Homo sapiens: one gene and its partners. The protein of the gene in region 3 interacts with the protein of the main gene of each other region in a pairwise test. Each region holds a gene or a part of one and is shown on either strand. Other genes may lie near its edges.

The links.
Region 1: the proteins of FFAR3 (region 3) and YIPF1 interact in binary tests that used the Homo sapiens proteins (3 or more experiments, as listed by UniProt).
Region 2: the proteins of FFAR3 (region 3) and SERINC1 interact in binary tests that used the Homo sapiens proteins (3 or more experiments, as listed by UniProt).

The regions. Positions count from the first base shown.
Region 1 is NC_000001.11:53,886,798-53,893,622, forward strand, and holds the start of YIPF1 (protein YIPF1), read right to left. Parts: upstream 3,001-6,825; 5' UTR 2,916-3,000; intron 2,667-2,915; 5' UTR 2,447-2,666; intron 2,190-2,446; 5' UTR 2,141-2,189; coding exon 2,110-2,140; intron 1-2,109.
Region 2 is NC_000006.12:122,461,808-122,468,807, reverse strand, and holds part of SERINC1 (serine incorporator 1), read left to right. Parts: intron 1-7,000.
Region 3 is NC_000019.10:35,354,500-35,361,052, reverse strand, and holds FFAR3 (free fatty acid receptor 3), read right to left. Parts: upstream 2,528-6,553; 5' UTR 2,404-2,527; intron 2,174-2,403; coding exon of another isoform or gene 2,163-2,173; coding exon 1,122-2,162; 3' UTR 564-1,121; downstream 1-563. UniProt on the Homo sapiens protein: G protein-coupled receptor that is activated by a major product of dietary fiber digestion, the short chain fatty acids (SCFAs), and that plays a role in the regulation of whole-body energy homeostasis and in intestinal immunity.

The sequences.
Region 1 (6,825 bases), on a different chromosome or scaffold from region 3:
GCACTCCTAGATAGGATGGCTGAGGAGGGTCTCTCTAATGAGGAGAGATTTGAACAGAGCAAAGAAGCAAGCCATAAGGCTATCTGAAGGGAGAATGTCCCACACAGAAAGATGGCACAAACATCCCAAGCTGTGAATGTACTTGGTGCATAGGAAGAACCGTGACAGCCCATGCAGCTTGGGCAGAGACAGAAAGGACGAGAGCAGCAGATGAAATCAGAGGGTTGGAGGCTGCATCATATAGGGGCCTCCTAAGCCACAGTAAGGGCTCTGGCTTTTTCGTTTTTGTGTTTGTTTGTTTATGTTTGAGATGGAGTCTCGCTCTGTCGCCCAGGCTGGAGCACAGTGGTGCGATCTCGGTTCACTGCAACCTCTGGGTTTGAGCAATTCTCCTGCCTCAGCCTCCAGAGTAGCTGGGATTACAGGCGTGCACCACCATGCCCAGCTAATTTTTGTATTTTTAGTGGAGACAGGGTTTCACCATGTTGGCCAGACTGGTCTCGAACTCCTGACCTCAGGTGATCTGCCCTCCTCGGCCTCCCAAAGTGCTGGGATTACAGGTGTGAGCCACTGCGCCCAGCCTGGCTTTTTCTTCTAGTGAGATGGGAGCTACTGGAAGGTTCTGAAAGAATGACATGATCTGCTTGAGTTTTAGAAGGACTACTCTGGCTGCAAAGTACAGACTGTAGAGGGATAAGGGAGGAAGCAGAAAGACCAGAAGGAAGGTAAAGGCTATAATTCAGAAAAAAGGTGACAGTGACCTTGAGCATGGTGAGAGTAGTGGTGGAGGTGGTCAGATGCTAGATGAATTTTGAAGACGAGGTTGACAGTATTTGCAAATTGAGGTGGATTTCTAGTACTTGCAAATGAAATAGATTTATCTTTAAACAGTGTATCTCTTCCTTAGATAACAGAGACAGCATAAGCTGTGATACCAGACTGGATGGGTTCAAATCCTGATTTTATCCCTTACTAACTGCGTGACCATTAGGCAAATTATTTTTCTGTGCCTCAGTCTCCTCATTAATAAAACAGGGGAATAAAGTAACTATTTCATAAAGTTGACATAAGGATTATCTGTACAGGATTTAGAACAGTGCCTGACATATAGTAAATGTTAGGTAAGGTGTTAATAAAACAAGTAAGTGGGCCAGGCCTGGTGGTTCATGCCTGTAATCCCAGCACTTTGGAAGGCCAAGATGGGTGGATCACAAGGTCAGAAGTTCGAGACCAGCCTGGCCAATATGGTGAAGCCCCGTCTCTACTAAAAATACAAAAATTAGTCGGGTGTGGTGACGGGCACCTGTAGTTCCAGCTACTCAGAAGGCTGAGGCAGGAGAATCGTCTGAACCCGGGAGGCAGAGGTTGCAGCAAGCCAAGATCGAGCCAAGGCACTCCAGCCTGGGCAACAGAGTGAGACTCCATCAAAAGAAACAAACAAACAAACAAACAAGTGTTCATCAATCCCTAGCCTAAGTCAGGCTCTGGGTTATGAGTCCTAATATCTCCTTGAACTTTTCCTCCAGCACTTTCATAGTTTGTAGGTATATATTTAAATGATCATTTAATAAATACATGTCCCCCTCACTAGACTGAGAGCTTCACAAGGAAACTATTTTGTTCACTCTTCTATCCCTGATAACTAGAACAATTGCCCGGTTCCTGGTCACAACCAGGAGATATTTACTGATTCAATGAGGGAATGATCTGATCACATTTCATCCTAATGATCTTTTTACATTTTTATCTACTCCACCAGTGGATAAACTTCTTCATCTTTTTGTCTCCAGTATCTTGTACGGTTCTAAGCACAAAGTAAGTGCTCAATAAATGTTTTCTGAACTAAAGCAGGAACTGTGTAAGCATTTTCTGTAATCACTGTACTAAATTTATGATACTCGTTACCAATCTGAAGGGTTATCTGGCAAAAAAAACAAAAACAAAAACAGCTGGTGTGGACAAACAGGAAACACCTGGATGTGGCCAACAGCCACCAAGATGTTTGAAATAATATCCTTCAATGTGTGAGGCAGTATAGGAATGAAAATACTTGCTGTGACTGTAGCAACAGTGATCATAAATATAAAGGTGGGCACCCAACTGGTATACCTTCAAATTGCAAGTCATCTACTGCTGCCATTCGGCCAGTGAGTCTTCTCCCAATTATGAGGAAGAAAATTTGCAGGGTTCTAAAAGAAAAAAATAGGTAAACATAATAGGATGACAGTATAAAGTATCTGCAAACAACTCTTATGTATTAGAAATGGTATCACTTTCCCTTGCCTCCCTTTTCAGTGGGGTTTAATAGGTTTATATAAAGATAACCACTAAGCATCAGGTATTATTAAATATTAAAACTGTAACAAAGAAACTAACCCCGGGGATCCAAAGGTTCCAATTCAACCTTATTTGGTTGTGTATGTACCAGGAATGAATCTCAACTCACTGTGTGAATGTTTAGAGAGCAGGTGCAGCCTAGAGATGTAACGATGAGGAAGGAGAGGCTGAGGTTTGAAAGAGGTGATGGGGACAGTGAAGAACAAAGGCAGTTCAGCCTAGCCAGTGGTTAAAGGCACAGGCTCTGGGGTCAGACAGAGCTGGGTTTGATTCCCGATTCTGCTGCTTCTCTGCTGTATGCGCGCTCCTCGCGGCCTCAGTTTCCTCATCTGTAAAATGGGTGCATAACGATACCTAGTCACACAGTGCGGGGGTCATTAAATGGGAGTGCGTGTAAGGAGCCTAGAGCGGAGTCAGGCAATTAGTAGGCAATGGGGTGTCGGCGACCCTGCAGCCCGGGACACCGCGAAGCAGAGGCAGTGTTTCAGGGAGAGGAGCTGGGCCGCGGCGGCCCGGGCGGGCAGGAGATCCTGAACCCCCTTAGCCTCGTACAGGTCCCGCAAACTCGGCAGCCTCACCTCGCGGGGTTAGGCGTCCCCCGGGTCCCGAGAAGGCTCGGGCCTCAGTTGCTCCGCGCCGGTTTCGGTCCAGCCCAGTTGCCGGAAGCCGGAGATCCGGGGGGCGGAACCTCTCCGCCTCCTCCGGGAAGAGCCCCGCCTCCTTAAAGAGACAGCAGCTCCCAGAGAAACCTGCGTGCTGCGGCGCGCAGAGCCCGCTCCCGCCCGCCCTTCTCCCGAGGCTGAGCCTCGAGTTCTTAAAGAGACAGGCGAGGGCGGAGTGGTGGGGTCGCTGAGTGTGACTACTTGGGCTGGCCTTGCTCCAGGGAACGTAGAAAATTCTCGAGTTTAGGGTTTTCTTACTGTGTGTTTATACCTCTTTTCCTAAGGAAATATAAAATCGGGTGATGAAAGACGATTGTGAAAGAAAAAATTAAGTCACCCGCGTCACCAGTCCCTCAGTTTCTTTTGGCCACAAAAATTTCACTGGTGAGAAAGTACATGATGAGTCAATTACATTCTGAATGAGTGATCGAAAGCGCGATGTCTGTTCGTATGAGCACCCCCAGTAAGTGAGCGCTTGGAAAGACTTTACATCTAATAATAGCCATATATAGTGTATTTTTTTCCCCAAGATGATCATGATCAGGCTTTGTACATGCAGGATCTCTAATTCTCAGAACAATCCTGCTATCTTGGGGTGATTATCCTCATTTTACAAAGAGAAAGCTGAGGCTTAGAGCATGTGCAGGGCACTTTTGGTTGAGTATGTACCAGGAATGAATCTCAGTTCATGAATTCAGCTGTGCTAGTATATCAGCCACCTCTTATGTCCCATTTCAGATCATCTTGGCCTCACCTGCTGCTTATTTCACCGCCACTCATCTTATTCCAGCGTCAGCAGATATAACCTGAGTGAGCTTGCCTCCAGTCTATGCCTCAGGCTTCTCACTTTCTGCTTCGAGGCTTGTTTCTTCATGCGATGGGGCCATGGGACCTTGCTGGAGCCAATCAGCACCCAGACAGGTGCATCCCAGAAGTGTAGGGGTAGAGAGTTGTTAATGTCTCATGAGGCAAATCTCTGACCAATGGGGTCAACACTTGATGAATATATGCTTTTCCTGTTTTTCCCCCTCAGGCGCCCTTTCATATAGCTTTCAAACTACCTAGCAGGATTAAGCAACCAAATGCCTTTGGAAGTGACGCATTTGACAATGCATCTTCGCAATGGGTCTCCTTCCTTCCCTGATATACAAGCCCTGTACTTCACTCCTGGTGCTTGGATTCATACTTGCCAATAAACTACTCATATGAGGAAGCAATATGAAGGCATGTTGGTACCAAAAGTGGCCCCAGAAAATAAAACCTTAGGTTGGCATTTTCTAACTGAACTGCGCACCAGTCACATGGCAACAACAAATATATTGCTGGTGTTAAGGGGAGAGAGAAGGAGGGGGGTGGTGGTGGTGTGATAACACTTAGAATAGAATGGCATCACAATTACTAAGGTGTCTGTCTGCAGTTGATTGGGATAACGTGCAGGTAGAAGATAAGGTGCTGAGTTATCTAGTGGCTGTGGCACAGGAACATTAAGAGGACAATGGTAATTATAAGGACTATGGAATGGACTGGGTGTTCTTAACTCCATTGGAAACCTTGAAAATAAAATGACAGACTTAGAACAGCCAACTGTCAACTTGAGGCACTTTGTGAAAGCTAGAGAGCCTCTATGGCAGCTTTGAAGATTCTTATTCTTCTATAGCCTTGAGAAAGACTGGACTGAAAATCAGGCCCAAGATCTAATTGTAAGGGTGGCAAAGTTTCAACGAAGACTGAATGCACAGCCTCTGTAGGTCTCCTCCATCAAAGCTGGGGCATTGTCAGAAAATGAATGGGAACCTGAGAACTGGGATGAGGATATTTGGGTAGGAAAGCCTGAGACTTGACCATCCCTCGTTTCCAGTTTCCCTTGAATCTTTCAAGGGAAAGGTGGCTGTGGCAGAAGTAGTCCTTTCCCCCTTGTTAAAGGAAAGCAAAGTCCTCTTGCTTACGGATCCTGCAATGATTACCTGCACAACATTGCTTTGGACTAAGGGACCAATTTAATTGTAAAGAACATGCAACAGTGACACATAACCATGGGTCTTACCCACTGGTCTTACCATGTGACTCAGTCATCCAATAGTAGGTGGCCTAATAGGATGGTGGAATGGCTTGTTAAAGGCACAGTTAGGGCTCCAGGTTGGGGAAAATACTCAGGAGACTGGGGCATTGTCCTCCGGCATGTAGTACATGTACTAAACCAATGGTTTATCAATTATTTATAATGGTACTTTGTTCTAAATACCTATAGATTTGCAAACCAAGGGGTAGCACTTCTTACTATCACTTTCAGTGAAACCTACACACATAGAATGTGTGCCTCCTGCGTCACAAGTTTAAGTTCTGCTTGGTTGGAGATCCTGGTCCCAGGGAAGCAGGGAAGGCGGAGAGAGAACACTTCCATTCCAGTTACAGTTCCACTGAATTGGAAGCTGTAACTACCACTTAGGCATTTTTGGCTTCTCATACCACTGCACCAGCAGGTAAAGAAAAGAGTGCCGGCTGGGCGCGGTGTCTCACGCCTGTAATCCCAGCACTTTCGGAGGCCAAGGTGGGCGGATCACCTGAGGTCAGGAATTCGAGACCAACCTGGCCAACATGGCGAAACCCATCTCTACTGAAAACACAAAAATTAGCTGGGCATGGTGGCACACGCCTGTAATCCCAGCTACTTGGGAGGCTGAGGCAGGAGAATTGCTTGAACCTGGGAGGCGGAGGTTGCAGTGAGCCGAGATTGTGCCACTACACTCCAGCCTGGACAACAGAGCGAGGCTCTGTCTCAAAAATAAATAAATAAAGAGTGACACATGGTGGGGAAAATCAGCCCTGATTACTTTAAGAAGTTGGGGGCTGGGCATGGTGGCTCATTCCCATAATCCCAGCATTTTGAGAGATCAAGGAAGGAGGATTGTTTGAGGTCAAGAGTTCAAGACCAGCCTGGGCAACATAAGGAGAAGCTATAACAGTCACAAAATTTGCCGGGTTTGGGTGGCACTCCTGTAGTCCTAACTACTCTGGCTGAGGTGAGAGGATGGCTTGAGCCAGGAGTTTGAGGCTGCAGTGAGCTATGATCACACCACTGCCCTCCAGCCTGGTGACAGAGGAAGGAAACCCCGTCTCAATTATTTAAAAAAAAAAAGGTCTTGGGTGTATTTTAAAACACTTCCCAACTCTGAGCTCTATGATTCTTCTTTCAGTTTCTCCAATGAGCCATGCTGTCTCTGGCTTCTGGGCCTTTGGCCATGTGGTTCCTTCCACCAGGACACTATCCCCACTTTAGCCAGCTGACTGCTTGCCGTCTTTCTGGTTTCAGCATAGAAATCACTTCCTCAGTGAAGTCCTCTTGACTTCTCTAACCAGAATTAGCTTCCCCTTCTCCCTGCTCTCGTAGCCCACGCACACCCTCCGCCTCTGGACTTCATTTAGGAAATGGTAGTTTTTTGTTTACTTGTCTATTCCCCGCACTAGACCATGACTTCCTTGAGAGAAGAGGGTGTTTTATTTGTCACTCTATGCCCAGTGCTAAGGGGAGTTGCAGGCCCCAGGTTTTGTTAGAAATGGTCCCATTTCTGTCTCTGCCCTGGGAGGTTTGAGATCCATATCCCCTGGGGAGGGCTCTGACTACAGAAATAGTCAACCACCAGCTAGAAGCCATGATTGGGGGCCGGGTGCGGTGGCTCGAGCCTGTAATCCCAGCACTTTTGGAGGCCAAGGCGGGTAGGTCATCTGAGGTCAGGAGTTCAAGACCAGCCTGACCAACACGGTGAAACCCTGTCTCTACTAAAAATACAAAAATTAGCCAGGCGTGGTGGCAGGCGCCTGTAATCCC
Region 2 (7,000 bases), on a different chromosome or scaffold from region 3:
GCCAACCTCCTAAATTTTTGTTAATACAGTGACTTGTTTTATAGAAATGATTTATAGTTGCTATGAATGGTCAAGCAATGCAGAGTAGAAATTAAATAAAAATGTCCCCCCAAAATCTTCCTTCTCTCTCAATGCATGGGTGCATTGTGTATTTGTATACACATGGGTGGATGAATAGACAAAAATATATTCTTAGGAATGGCAGCATCTTAAACATATTTTTAAGCAAAGCATTGAATTTAATGTTTCTTGAATTTAACAAAAAAAAAAGTAATTCTTAAATGTTAACATTTGTCAGGAGAGTTTCTTAAAAAGATTCTTCTAAGGAGGTGTTTCCATAGCAGTGATTTTCAACTGGACACAGTTTTGCTCCCCAGTGGGCATTTGGCAATATCTGCAGACATTTTTCATTGTCACAACCTGGGGTGAGGCGTGCCACTAGCATCTAGTTAGTTGGTAGAGGACAAGGATGCTGCTAAATCTACAATGTATAGGATAGCCCCCAACAACAAATAATTATTCAGCCCAAAATAGCAATAACAACATGGTTAAGAAAGTCTGGTTTAAGTTTAAGAAAAACATTGTATAAGACATTGAAGTTGGAGTAACTTTTTAAGGACATTTTAATTTTAGATTCACTTCTCTGAAAGGTGGAACAAATCAATATTCACCCATTCCCCTAGTTCCCAGGTTTAATTAATTGTATCATTTTTAAATTTTTTAATTCATAATTCTGTATGTACATACTTCTCTATGCGCTTAAGAAAAATAGTATACCACTCCCATTTCCTCCCTTTGGAGACAGTATTTCTTTTGGTATTTATTGCCGTATTTCTAATTAACATACATATAGTGTATTCTTGATTTTGTTTATTTGTTTTAGACATTGTCTTCTAACTATGGAAGACGAAGATTTAGCAGTCATCCCTTGATTTCAACTGGCCCTCATCCCTACCCCCACCAAAATCACACACACACATTGATGTCCCCATAGCTTTCCATAATACTAAATAATTTTGGTAAATGAACATTATTGTGACTATTTAAATAAGTTTATATATGTAAAGCTGTAGCAAGCACTTACATGTTAGTTCTTTATTTGTGTAATGCTCTTCATAGGTCAGCCTTGTACTAAATATGCAATGACTTTTCCTTTCATGCACAACATTTTTTGTTCATTGGTTTGCTTTCTTTTCTTTTTTTGACAGAATCTCACTGCATTGCCCAGGCTGGAGTGCAGTGGCGCGATCTCAGCTCACTGCGACTTTGAACCTTCCGGGTTCAAGTGATTCGCTTGCCTCAGCCTCCTGAGTAGCTGGGATTACAGGCATGTGCCACCACACCCAGCTAATTTTTATATTTTTAGTAGAGATGGTGTTTTGTCATGTTGGCCAGGCTGGTCTCAGAACTCCTAGCCTCAAGTGATCCACCTGCCTTGGCCTCCCGAAGTGCTGGGATTATAGGTGTGAGCCACCGCACCCAGCCTATTTTCAGTGTATTTAAATTATTTAACCTCAGACTTTTCCCCAGCTGTATGCATCTCTAAGTTCAGATACATGTCATGATTGATCGAACCTTGGAGGTTATCTCTCCCAGAATCTTCTGACCTGCTCTAGTCTATAGTCAACTGTTTTCATCCTGGATCTCACTTTATCCTCTAATGAGGATGTACATTTCCTCTCTCTTAGGTTGAAACCCTTTTTTTCTTCATTGCTTGTATTCATTTGGTTGACGACCATGTTTTGGTATAATGCTCCTTGACAGAACCACATAGGAGGTACACTTTGGTCATAGAAGTCTAGATTGGAAGTCATTTTCCCTCAGAATTTTGATGCTCCTTTGTAGACTTGTAGTCTTGCTGCTGGGTATTCTGAAGTCATTTTAGAAACTTTTTCTGTATGACCTTTCCATCCTTCACTTCTCCACCAGTTAATTACATTTCTTGAATTCTTTAATTTTCTCACCTGTATTTTCTACATTGTCTTTCTGTTATTCACATATTATGCTTCCTGGACTGAAACTCTAGGTTTCTTCCTTTCTGCTTTCCATCTCATTGGCTTTTTGCACGGCTTTCTGAGAAATTTCCTTGATTGTTTTCAGAACTTCCGTTGAATTTTATTTTTTAAATTTTTTTATTGACTGATTGGACTTCTGTTGAATTTTTAAACCTCTGCTATAGGGGCAGTGTGCTCACACCTATAATCTTAGCACTTTGGGAGGCCAAGGTAGGCAGATCACTTGAGCTCAGGCCTTGGCAACATGGCAAAACACTGTCTATACAAAAAATACAAAAAAATTAGCCAGGCGTGGTGGTGCGTGCTTATGGTCCCAGCTACACCCAGCGTATCTGTGATCTCAGCTTCTGTAGAGGCTGAGGTGGGGGGATCACCTAAACCCAGGGAGGTTGTGGCTTCAGTGAGCTGTAATCATGCCACTGCACTCTAGTAAAGCCTACATTCCAGCCTGGACGACAGAGTGAGACTCTGTCTCAAAAAACAAACAACAACAAAAACCTCTGCTGTAACATTTTTAATTACCAAGAGTCTGTTTTGTTCTCTGTTTCACCTAGTCTTGCTTTGTTGCCCGGGATGGAGCGTAGTGGCGTGATCTCGGCTCACTGAAACTTCCGCCTCCCAAGTTCGAGCAATTCCGCCTCCCAAGTTCAAATGCCTCAGCCTTCTGAGTAGCTGGGACTATAGGTGCACAACACCATCCCTGGGTAATTTTTGTATTTTTAGTAGAGACTGTTTCACCATGTTGGCCAGGCTGGTCTTGAACTCCTGACCTCAAGTGATCTGCCAGCCTCAGCCTCCCAAAGTGCTGGGATTACAGGTGTGAGCCACCGTTCCTGGCCTCTGTTCCATTTTTATAGCATCCTGTGGTTGTTTCATGGAAGCAAGCTTTCTCCCTTTTTAAAAAAATCTTTATTTTTATCTTTATGATATACCCTGTACTATATAGTTTATTAATATACTCTGTAAGTATATTAAAAATACCAAATTTTTTATGCTTTTATGTCTGCCTATAATTTCTTTTCAAGTTTCTCCTATCCACTCCTCCCACTTTCATTGATCTTAGTGTTTTCCGGAGTATTCAGTGGTCAGTAGCTATTTGTTCATATTTAGGAGTGGGACACTCAAGAGCTTGGTGTAGGACTTGTCAGCTGTGACTACCGTGAAGTGATCTGGCTCAACCAGTTTATTGTGGAAGCCTAATGCAGATATTTATCTAGGGCTATTGATAGATCCAGGGTACACTTCCAGTCTCCAACCTGGGGAATATACCTGCATTCTGGAAGGCAAGTGACGGAAAGAATGATGAGGTTCTTCACATTCAGTACATAAAATTTGACTTAATTTTATGTTTTTAGTATGGAACCCCTTCTGTCAACTCTACTTGGTGTTTCCCTGTCAAACCTCATGTTTTATTCTTTCAGGTGACTAGTGCAAGAAATGGAATGAAATCTGGGAGTCTTAACTGCTCTTTGGAAAGACATTCAACCAATCATCTATTTTTACTATACCTTTAGTGTCACTTACAGAGACTCCTGGTGCCACCAGTTCCTGAACTATTTGGGGATTCTGCCAAATGAATTGTGTTGCTCGTTAACTTTTTCCTTTGATAACTTAGAATTCAGCTTTCTCTGTTAAGGTTGTTACTACTTCGTAGTTTCTACTTCCTAGATTTGTTCTGGGAAGAACAAAACAAAAGAACTAGAACAAAAGATCTAGTTCTTTTTGACTTTTACATTTTATTCTTTCTTTTTTAAAGAAAAAAAACCCCAAACCTTTATTTTTTATTTTATTGGGATTTCTAGAGTGAACATAGGTAAATTAATATATTCAGTCTGCCATCTTTAACTAGAAGCACTTTGTACTATTATTTTTATGTTGCCATTATCTTATACCCTAGAAACATTGACTGGGGGCATTCTATGTTTTAATAAGCCCTCCAGGTAATTCTGGTAGTTGTTACAGTTTGAGAACCAGTGCTCTAAACTTAAGTGGATGCAAAGCTCTCTACCAGTCCTTGGCTTACCATTGCTTTGCTCTAATTTTTTATTTTAATGTCATCTCCTAATTGACCACATTTTGTCATCAGTAGATTTTTCAAAAAGGATTTATTGGTGCCGGAATCTCTAAGTTCTTTGGTTTTTGAAAGTGCCTGCTAAATTCTTGAGAGACATTTTGGACTGGTATAATATAGTATACGAATTTCCTTCAGAACTTTGTAGTTATTTCTCTTTCGTATTCTGTCTTATATCAGCCTGGTTTCCACACCGTCCCTCTGCACGTGCATAGGTGGTTTGTTTCCTCTGCCTGAGTAGCTGAAGAGTTTTTGTTTATCTTAGAAATTAAATAACCAGATAAGTCTGAGTTTAAATCTTTTATCACTTTTTTTCCCCTTCTCAAAAAGTAGTGTGCTCTTTTGATGCACAGATTATTTTTCCATCTAAGGAATTTTTCTTATATTAGATCTGTGAATATCCTTTAATTCATTTATTTAGAGGATTCTCTATTTTAAGGACTTTTTTTAGTTAAGGTATAATTTACATACAGTAGAATTTACTCTTTGTAATATACAGTTCCATGAGTTTTGACAAATGCATCTCTAGTCGTGTAACCGTTTTGGAACATCGATCATCCTAAAAAATTGCACTGTCCTGTCCTTGGCAACCCCTATTTTCTGTCTTTAGGATTTTGCCTTTCTAGAGTGTCATATTAATGGAATCCTACAATATATAGTCTTTGAGTCTGGCTTCTTTTACTTAGCACATAATGAGTTTCATTCTCCGTATGTTTTTATTGTTGAATATTGTTTTTGTTTGGATGTACCACAATTTATCCATTCACCATTTGAGGAGCCTTTCTAGGTTTTGATGATTACAAATAAAGTAGCTATAAGCATTCCCATCAAGGTTTTTTTGTGTAATTATAAGTTCTTATTTCACTTGAATAAATATCTGAGTGTGGATTTGCTTATTCATACAGTAAGTGCATGTTTGATTTAAAAATAAGAAACAGTCAAACTGGTTTCCAAAATGGTTGTACCATTTTTCATTCCCGCCACCAAAGTAAGAGAGTTCTAGTTGCTCTGCATTCTTGTCAGTAGTTGGTATCATCAGTTTATTTCATTTTAGCCGTTCTAATATGCATGCAGTAGTATCTCTGATTTTAATGTACATTTCCCTAATAATGATATTGAGCACTTTTTCTTTGCTTATTTGCTGTCTATATGCCTTTTATTAAAGTATCTGTTTAAATATTTTGCCCATTTTTAATTGAGTTGTTTGTTTTCTTATCACTGAGTTTTTAGAGTTCTTTTTATATTCTGGATGCCGATGATTTATCATGTACCTCACTTGCAAGTATTTTCAAGTTTATGGCTTGCTTTTTCATTCTCAGCAGTGTGTTTCAAAGAGCAAAAGTTCTTAATTTTGATGAAGCCCAATTCATTTGTTTTTCTTTTGTGAGTCCTGTTTTTTATATGGTATCTAGGAAATCTTAATTCTCATATATGGTTTGATTATGGCTTAAGGTTAACTTTCTAAAAAATGTATGAATATCCAATTATTTCAGCAACATCTGTTAAAAAGATTATCCTTTCCATAGTGAATTGCTTTGGTATCTTTGTCAAAAATCCTTTGATTATATTTGCATGAATCTATTTCTGAACTTTATTGTGTTCTACTTAGTGTGTCCACCCTTTTCCCTATATCACTCTGTTTTAATTACTGTCACTTTAATGCTAGTCTTGAAATCAGGTAGTGTGTCTTTTAACTTTGTTCTTTTTTCAGACTTGTTTGAGCTATTCTGGTGTTTTTTGCCTGTTCAGCTAGTTTATTTCTGTAAATCTGATGTTGGGATTGTGATTGGAATTGGGCTGAATCTATAGATAAGTTTGGAAAGACCTGATATCTTGAAAATAATTGTCTTCCAACTATGAACTCTGTATATTTTGCCATTCATTTAGGTCTTTGATTTCTTTCACCAATGTTTTGTAGTTTTCATTATTTGAGATCTTGTCTATGTTTTGTTAGATTTATAACTATTTTCTTTTTGTTTTCAGTTATTACTAATACGTAGAAACATGATTGTGTATATTGACTTTTTATCATGTGACCTTATTAAACCGATGAGTTAGTTCTAGTTGCATTTTTGTAGGTTCTTTGTGGGGTATTTTTATTGTTTTTATTTGTTTTGTTTTGTTGTCATCCAGACTCGAGTGCAGTGGCGCTATCATTGAACTCCTTGAACTCCTAGGCTCAAATGGTCCTCCTGCCTCAGCTTCCCAAATTGCTGGGATTACAGGTGTGAGCCATGGTGTATGGCCCTCTTTGGGATTTTCTATATAGACAGTTGTGTTATATGTGAAGAGGGCAGTTTCGTGTCTTCCATTCCAATTTTTATGTTTTATTTTCTTTCTTGCCTCATTATATTGGCTGGGACCTCCAGTGTGAAGTTGAATTCAAATGGTGAGAGAGGTATTTTGCCTTGTTTGATGTCTTACAGGGAAAGCATTCAGACTTTCGTCATTAATTATGGGTGAGAGCTATAGGTATTTGTAAATGCCATTTATCAAGTTAAGGATGTTATCTTCTATTCTTTGCTGACAGTTTATATCATGAATAGGTATTGAATTTTGTCAAATGGTTTTTCTGTATCTATTGAGATGACCTTGTTTTTTTTCTTTAGTCTGTTTATACAGTAGAGGTCATTGGTTGATTTTTAAAAGTGGAACCAGCCTTGCTTTTCCAGGCTAAACTCTACCTGGTGGCAATATATTATCCTTTTTATATACTTTCATATTGCTGTTTTTGACTTGCTAAAATATCATTAAGAATTTTTTTGTGTATGTTTATGAGGGATATCGGTCTATTATTTTCTTATGATGTCTTTGGATTTAGTCTCTGTAATTCTGGCCCATTTTTTTAAATAAGAAGAATATGTCTCTTTCATATTCCTTTGTATGCAAATCCAAATTTCTCTCTGGTATAATT
Region 3 (6,553 bases):
CTTTTTTTCCAAGAGGGCTTTTTTACTGGGAAAAGGTTGAACCCACACAAATAGTCAATACGCTTTGCATTTAGTTCTGTTTCTTATCATGGCCTGTTTATATTTGTCCTGCTCAGACAGACTTATCTGACTTGGGACATTTGACTGGGCCAGGTGACCACAGGTGACACACAGATGGAGAACAGCAGAGTGGCTTAGGGGCATGGGTGTCAGAGTCAACTGACACCAGCTTCTGGTCCCACTTCAATCGCCCACCAGCTATGGGATCTCAGGTAGGAGGTGTCACCTCTCTGGGCCACTCCTTCATCTGAAACTGGGGATAATGCTGGTACCTCTCACAGGGCTATTGAGAGATAGAAGGAGATGATGTGTCAGGCCAAGTCCTTTAGACAGGGCAGCTGTTATTTTCATCCCTGCAAGCCAGATCCTCTCCCAGCATCCAGGCATCCTGGTGTTTGGCCCTTTTCCTCCAGAGTCTGGTGTTTTCTCCTTCCATCCACCAGTCCCACCCGGCCCAAGCACACCACCAGAACAAAACAGGAGAAGAAGGAAACACTGTTCTCTTTTGCTTGCTTCCACATTTATTTGGGTAATTTTTCTTCTGTCATTGTTCATAAATGTCTCTGATGATCCACATTTATTGAGCAATGGGAACTTTCTGGAAAAGGCGCTGTGGGAGCAGAATGCGGCCTCATCCCTGGAGCCCTGTCTCCCCCGCTCCTGACTCGCTGGCTGGGAGCAGCTCTGAGGATGGGGTTCTCCCCTCTCCTGCCCCTGCCACTCACTGGGCAGCCCCCTCAGACCCTGGGCACTGCTCTTAGCTCCTCTGCCACCCTCAAGAAAACACAGGAGCTGCCTGCTGCTATGAGGACCTCATTGTTCTCCAGAGCAGCCTCTCACCCTGACCCCTTCCCAGAGCCCAATCCATAGTGTGTGGGTGGATGGGGATGGAGGTGAGATCGAGAGCTGGGCTTTAGCGCGCATACCCTTAGGGAGGCTAGATGTCTACTCTGCCCCCAAGCCCCATCGGGCCCCAGCTCGCCACTCCAAGTCCCTCCTGGCGTGAGCGAGGAAGCGCCCTGAGGATGACATGCCAGCTACACCCTCCTCCCCCGGAGGACCTAGCTTTCAGCACAGGCCACCTGGCCACCAGTTCCACAGCCCTGTGAGTGTTCACTGGTCTTTCTTTCAGCTGGTCGGTCCGCTCTCTGCTCCTCCCCTCCCTTCTGCTCCTTCAGCTCCATGCTGCTCTCCTGCTGCCACTGGCCCCAGAGCCCACACAACCTCCTCAGCAGCTCATGAAAGTCGGCTTGGAACCCGGAGGAGGAGAAGTAGTAGACAAAGGGGTCGACACAGGAGTTCAGGGTGCTGAGAAGCGTCACGTAGATCCTCCACGCCGGGCTTTCACCGCAGATATAGCCCACGACATGGGACACGTTGTAGGGCCCAAAGCAGACAAGGAAGTTGAGCAGCGTGGCCGCCAACAGCCCCGCCACCCTCCTCTGCCGGCGGTGGCTGCCCCCTCTGCCGAGGATCCACACCAGGCGGCTGTAGCAGTAGCTGGTGATGATCAGCGGGACCACAAAGAGGACCACAGCCATCTCCAGCCGCACGGGCAGGAGGATGGCTAGCTGGTCCTTCCGGAACTCCAGGTAGCAGGTCCCATTGGTGCCCTGGCTGTGGGAGATGTCCCCTGAGAATTCTATGACGTAGACCACGCTGCAGTGAGCAGAGGCCAACAGCCAGCAGGCCACACTCACCAGACCTGCCTGCCCCAGCCTCGGCCGGGTCTTGTACCACAGTGGGTGGGCCACACTCAGGAAGCGTTCAATGCTCACAGCTGCCAGGAAGAGGGCGGTGAGATAGATGGTGGTGAAGAAGATGAATCCAGAGAGTGGGCAGAGGATGAAGGGCAGGGGCCAGTGCATGCCATTGGCTGCCTCCACCATGCGGAAAGGCAGGAACAGCAGCAGGAGCAGGTCCGAGGCGGTCAGGTTGAGCAGGAGCACGTCCACGGCCACCGGGCGGCGCTGCAGCTTGCCCACGAAGACCACCAGGGCCAGCAGGTTGAGGGGGAGCCCCACCAGGAAAGTGAGAAGGTACACCGAGAAGACGAACCAGTGATTGCCGGAGAAGTAGGACTGGTCGGGGCCTGTATCCATGGTGGTGGCCACTGGTGAGAGAGAGTAACATGGAGTTGGTAGTGGGGGCCCTAACGGCCTCTGGCCAGCAGCATCTCCCCTAAAAGGGCACGAGGTCACTACGCCCACCCCTCTTGTCTCTGGGTGCCTTCCAGGCGGGGTCAGCCTGCCTGTCTTCCTGAGCATGCCCTGTCCCCTGTCCCTTCCCCAGCAGAGAAGCACCAAGGTGCTCCTCCACCCAGCCCCTCGGGCCCAGGCTCACCTGCTTCTTTGAGACCCCAAATGCTCTGCCGCACAGCACCTTGCTGTCTCTCCAGACCTAGTGCAGTTGGCTATTTATCCGGCAGAACTGATAAAGACCTGGCCGTGCCCATGACGTCACTCACTGTTGAGCAGTGGCACATAGATGCCTTGAGCTCCGTTGCCAGGGCTGGTCAGCATGCTAAAAGGGGAACAAATTCCACAACTGCGTGCCTCCCTCCTCATGCAGTCTCAGCTGGGATGCTCTAAGCAGGCCCCAGCCGACGTCTTCCTCTCCCCTTCTTCACTTGAATTTTGTCTGCTTCTCTAGAATGGCATTTATCCAATTTGCCTTGTAAGGGCAGGAAGTGTGATGCAATGACAGAGAGCGAGCTCCGTGAGGTCTGTTTCTTCCTGACTTTGTGATTTGGGGGAAATGACTTAAATTCTCCATGTTTCTGCTTTCTCCCCTGCAGAACAGAGCTCATCATAATACCCATCTCATAGATCAACGCATTAACACATGCAAATTAAAACAATATGTAGGTCGATTAAAAGATTACTAATACATGTTGAGTGGTTTGACGGAAGCCTGGCGTGTGGTCGTGAGCAGGCAGCGGATGCCAGCTGCTATTTTCCCTGTCACTGGTGCAGGATTATCTCTGGGGTGACAATGTAATAATAATAACAATAATAATGGTGGTGGCGATGATGACAGCAGCTGCCTTTTCATGGGCACATAATCCATAGCAGACACTGCTTCTAGGGCAACGCTTTTATGTCATAAAATCCTTGTCCTTCACCGTAGGGAAGTGACTTGCTCCAGGTGATACAGCTTGTGAAATGTCACCACTAGGGTTCAAACCCAAGTGCTGTCCAGTTTCACAGGTGATCTATTAGTTCATTCAAACAATCACAGGGCACAATGAGATATGATTTCACATCCACTAGAATGGCCACAAGCAAAAAGTCAGACAATGCCTATGGTCGGCGAGAATGTAGAGAGATAGGGGCCTCATTCACTGCTGGTGAGAATAATGGGAGGTGGTGTCCCTGCTTTGGAAAGCAGGTGGCAGTTGCTTAAAAAGTTAAACATAAATTCACCATGCGATCCAACAATTCCACCGTAGGTATTTACTTAAGAGAAGTGGAAACTCAGGTCTACTTAAAGACTCAGTCCTAAATGTTCACAGCAGTGTTGGTCATAGTCACCAACAGTGGAAATGTTACCTGGCAGCCCATCAGCTGGTGAGTGAATAAAAAAGTGGCACATCCATATACTGGAATTCTATTTGGCAAAGAAAAGGAATGAGCTACCCATACACACTACAGCCTTATGTTGAGTGAAACAAGCCAGACGTAAAAGACCATGTACATATATTGTCAGATTTCATTTATTTATATGATATGTCCAGAATAGGCAAAGTTATAGAGTCAGAAAGTAGACTCGTGGTTGTCTGGGGGATGGAGGTAGAAATGAAGATTAAGTTGTTTTTTTTTTTTTTTTTTTTTTTTTGAGACAGGGTCTTGTTGTCGCCCAGGCTGGAGTGCAATGGTGCAATCTTGGCTCACTGCAAACTCTGCCTCCCGGGTTCAAGAAATTCTCATGCCTCAGCTTCCTAAGTAGCTAGGATTACAGGTGCCCGCCACCACGCCTGGCTAATTTTTGTATGTTTAGTAGAGATGAGGTTTCGCCATGTTGGCCAGGCTGGTCTCGAACTACTGACCTCAGGTGATCCGTCCACCCCAGCCTCCCAAAATGCTGAGATTATAGGCGTGAGCCACCCCGCCTGGCCCAAGATTAAGTTTAAATGAACATGAAGTAAAATCCTTTACTAGGGTCATGAAAATGTTCTAAAACTAGCTGATGGTAATGGACTCACACCTCAGTAAATTTACTAAAAATCATTGAATTGTACACTTAACATTGGTGAATTTGATGATATGTACATAATATCTCAATTAAGCTGTTAAAAGTGCAGCAGTAGGCTGGGTACGGTGGCTCAGGTCCGTAATTTTAGCACTTTGGCAGGCTGAGGTGGGAGGATTGCTTGAGCACAGGTTGTTTGAGACTAGCCTGGGCAACATGAGGAGACCCTATGTCCACAGGGGAAAAAAAAAAAAAAAAGAGAGAAAGAAAAAAGAAATTAGCTGGGTTTAGTGGCATGTGCCTCTGGTCCCAGCTACTTGGGAAGCTGAAATGGAAGAATCGCTTGAGCCCAGGAATTCAAGGCTGCAGTGAGCCATGACTGTGTCACTGCACTCCATCCTGAGCAACAGAGTGAGACTGTGTCTAAAAAAAAAAAAAAAAAAAAAAAACAACACGCAGTTGTGAACAAAAAGTTTTTGCTGTCATGCTGTTTACATTACATTTGGTGGTGAGGGCTTGGGGGATGGAGTAGGGGAAGGATCATGAAGACGTGGATACTGAAGAGGCAAAGAGCCACTGGAGGGAACATTGGGGCAGGGGAGTCACGGGTGCACAGACTTGGCCTGCTGGGGGAGCTGATAGGAGGTTTGGGTCTCACAGGAGTGAGAGGCGCCTGGGGTGGATCACACTGAGTCTCCTGGGCCCCAGGGAGGCACTGGATTTGCCCTAAGTGGGGGGAGGCAGGAGGAACTGGGAGAAGCAGCCCAGTACCCAGCAGGGGCTATGGAGCAGGAGTCAAAGAGAGTGGGCCCTGGCACCCTGTGATGCGGGAGGAGGCACTGGGGCTCCCTGGGGTGGAGTTTGGGTTTTTACTGAAATTCCCTGGTGTTGTCACTGCACAAGTGCCGGGCTTGTTTCTGGCTTCCAAAAGAAGTTACTTAATTTCTCTGGCCTGTTTCCATATTGATAAAACAGACATAGAACTTTCTTTGGAAGGCTAGTAGAGGCATTCATTCATTCATTGAGCGAACATTTACTGAGCACCTACTGCGTGCCACTCTGTCTTCTGGGCGCTGGGGATATATCATCAATTACAAGAAAAATCCTTGCATGCGTAGACATTTCAGCCTGAACAGAGCTCATTTGTAGAAATTGGTGCGTGCACCCCAGCTGGTGGCTGCCATTTGTTGTGCTCCAATACATCATCATGTGCATGGCATTGCTGTAATTTAGAGCAGGTGCCCAGGTGTCTGTCTCCTTCACAGCCACAGCCACTCCCTTCTGACCTCCCTCTCATGGATGTGGGATGCTATCCTTTGCGAAATGGACCACAAATACAGGGTTAACCCCCACACCCCCAGGTTTCCCAAATGTCCCCTGGCTCTTGGGGGTTCTGCTTGGAAGGATCACATCCTGCTTTTACCCCTTCCTTGCTGTAGGGCCTTAGGCAAGTTTCTTCATCCCATTCCAGGATCGTAGCTACCTGGTGCAGCACCTTTGTGCAAATTAGGTGCTCCCTTTCCAGAGGAGCCCATCCCGCACCAAGTGCTGCCTAAGGAGTGGCTGGTGTATTTCTTCAAATTAGAACACAATACTCCTTCCCTTGATGCAAGCAAGGCAGGCATGTGGCTTGTTGAGCAAAGCACAGGCTAGAATTTAGTCAGTGTTTGCTCCTCTGCCCAGTACCTTCGTGTAGTGAACACCCGCTCATCCGTACGGCAGTGGCAAGGCTAAACCACAGCGTTGTGTGAAGCTGAAGTGAGACAACACTCACTGTAGACACTCAGCGTGACACCCATCACGTATTACAGACTATATAGTTGACCTTTGAATAGCACAGGTTTGAACTGTGCAGGTCCACTTACTTGTGGATTTTTTTCAATAAATACATTGGAAACATTTTCAGAGATTTGCAACAATTTGAAAAAACTTACAGAGGAACTACAAGCCTAGAAATATATTTTTAAAATTAAGCAAAAGTTAAGTATGCCACGAATACAAAAAATATATGTAGGTACTAGTCTATTTACTGCCACTAGTCTATTTACTGCCATACATACTAGTCTATGTATGCCAAAATGGATACAAAGCTTTTTTTTTTTTTTTTTTTGAGACAGGATCTGGCTCTATTACCCAGGCTGGAGTGCAATGACATGATCTCGGCTCACTGCAACCTCTGCGTCCCAGGCTGAAACCATCCTTCCACCTCAGCCTCCCAAGTACCTGGGACTACAGGCACACGCCACCATGCCCAGCTAAATTTTTTGTATTTTTGGTAAAGACAGGGTTTCTCCATGTTGCC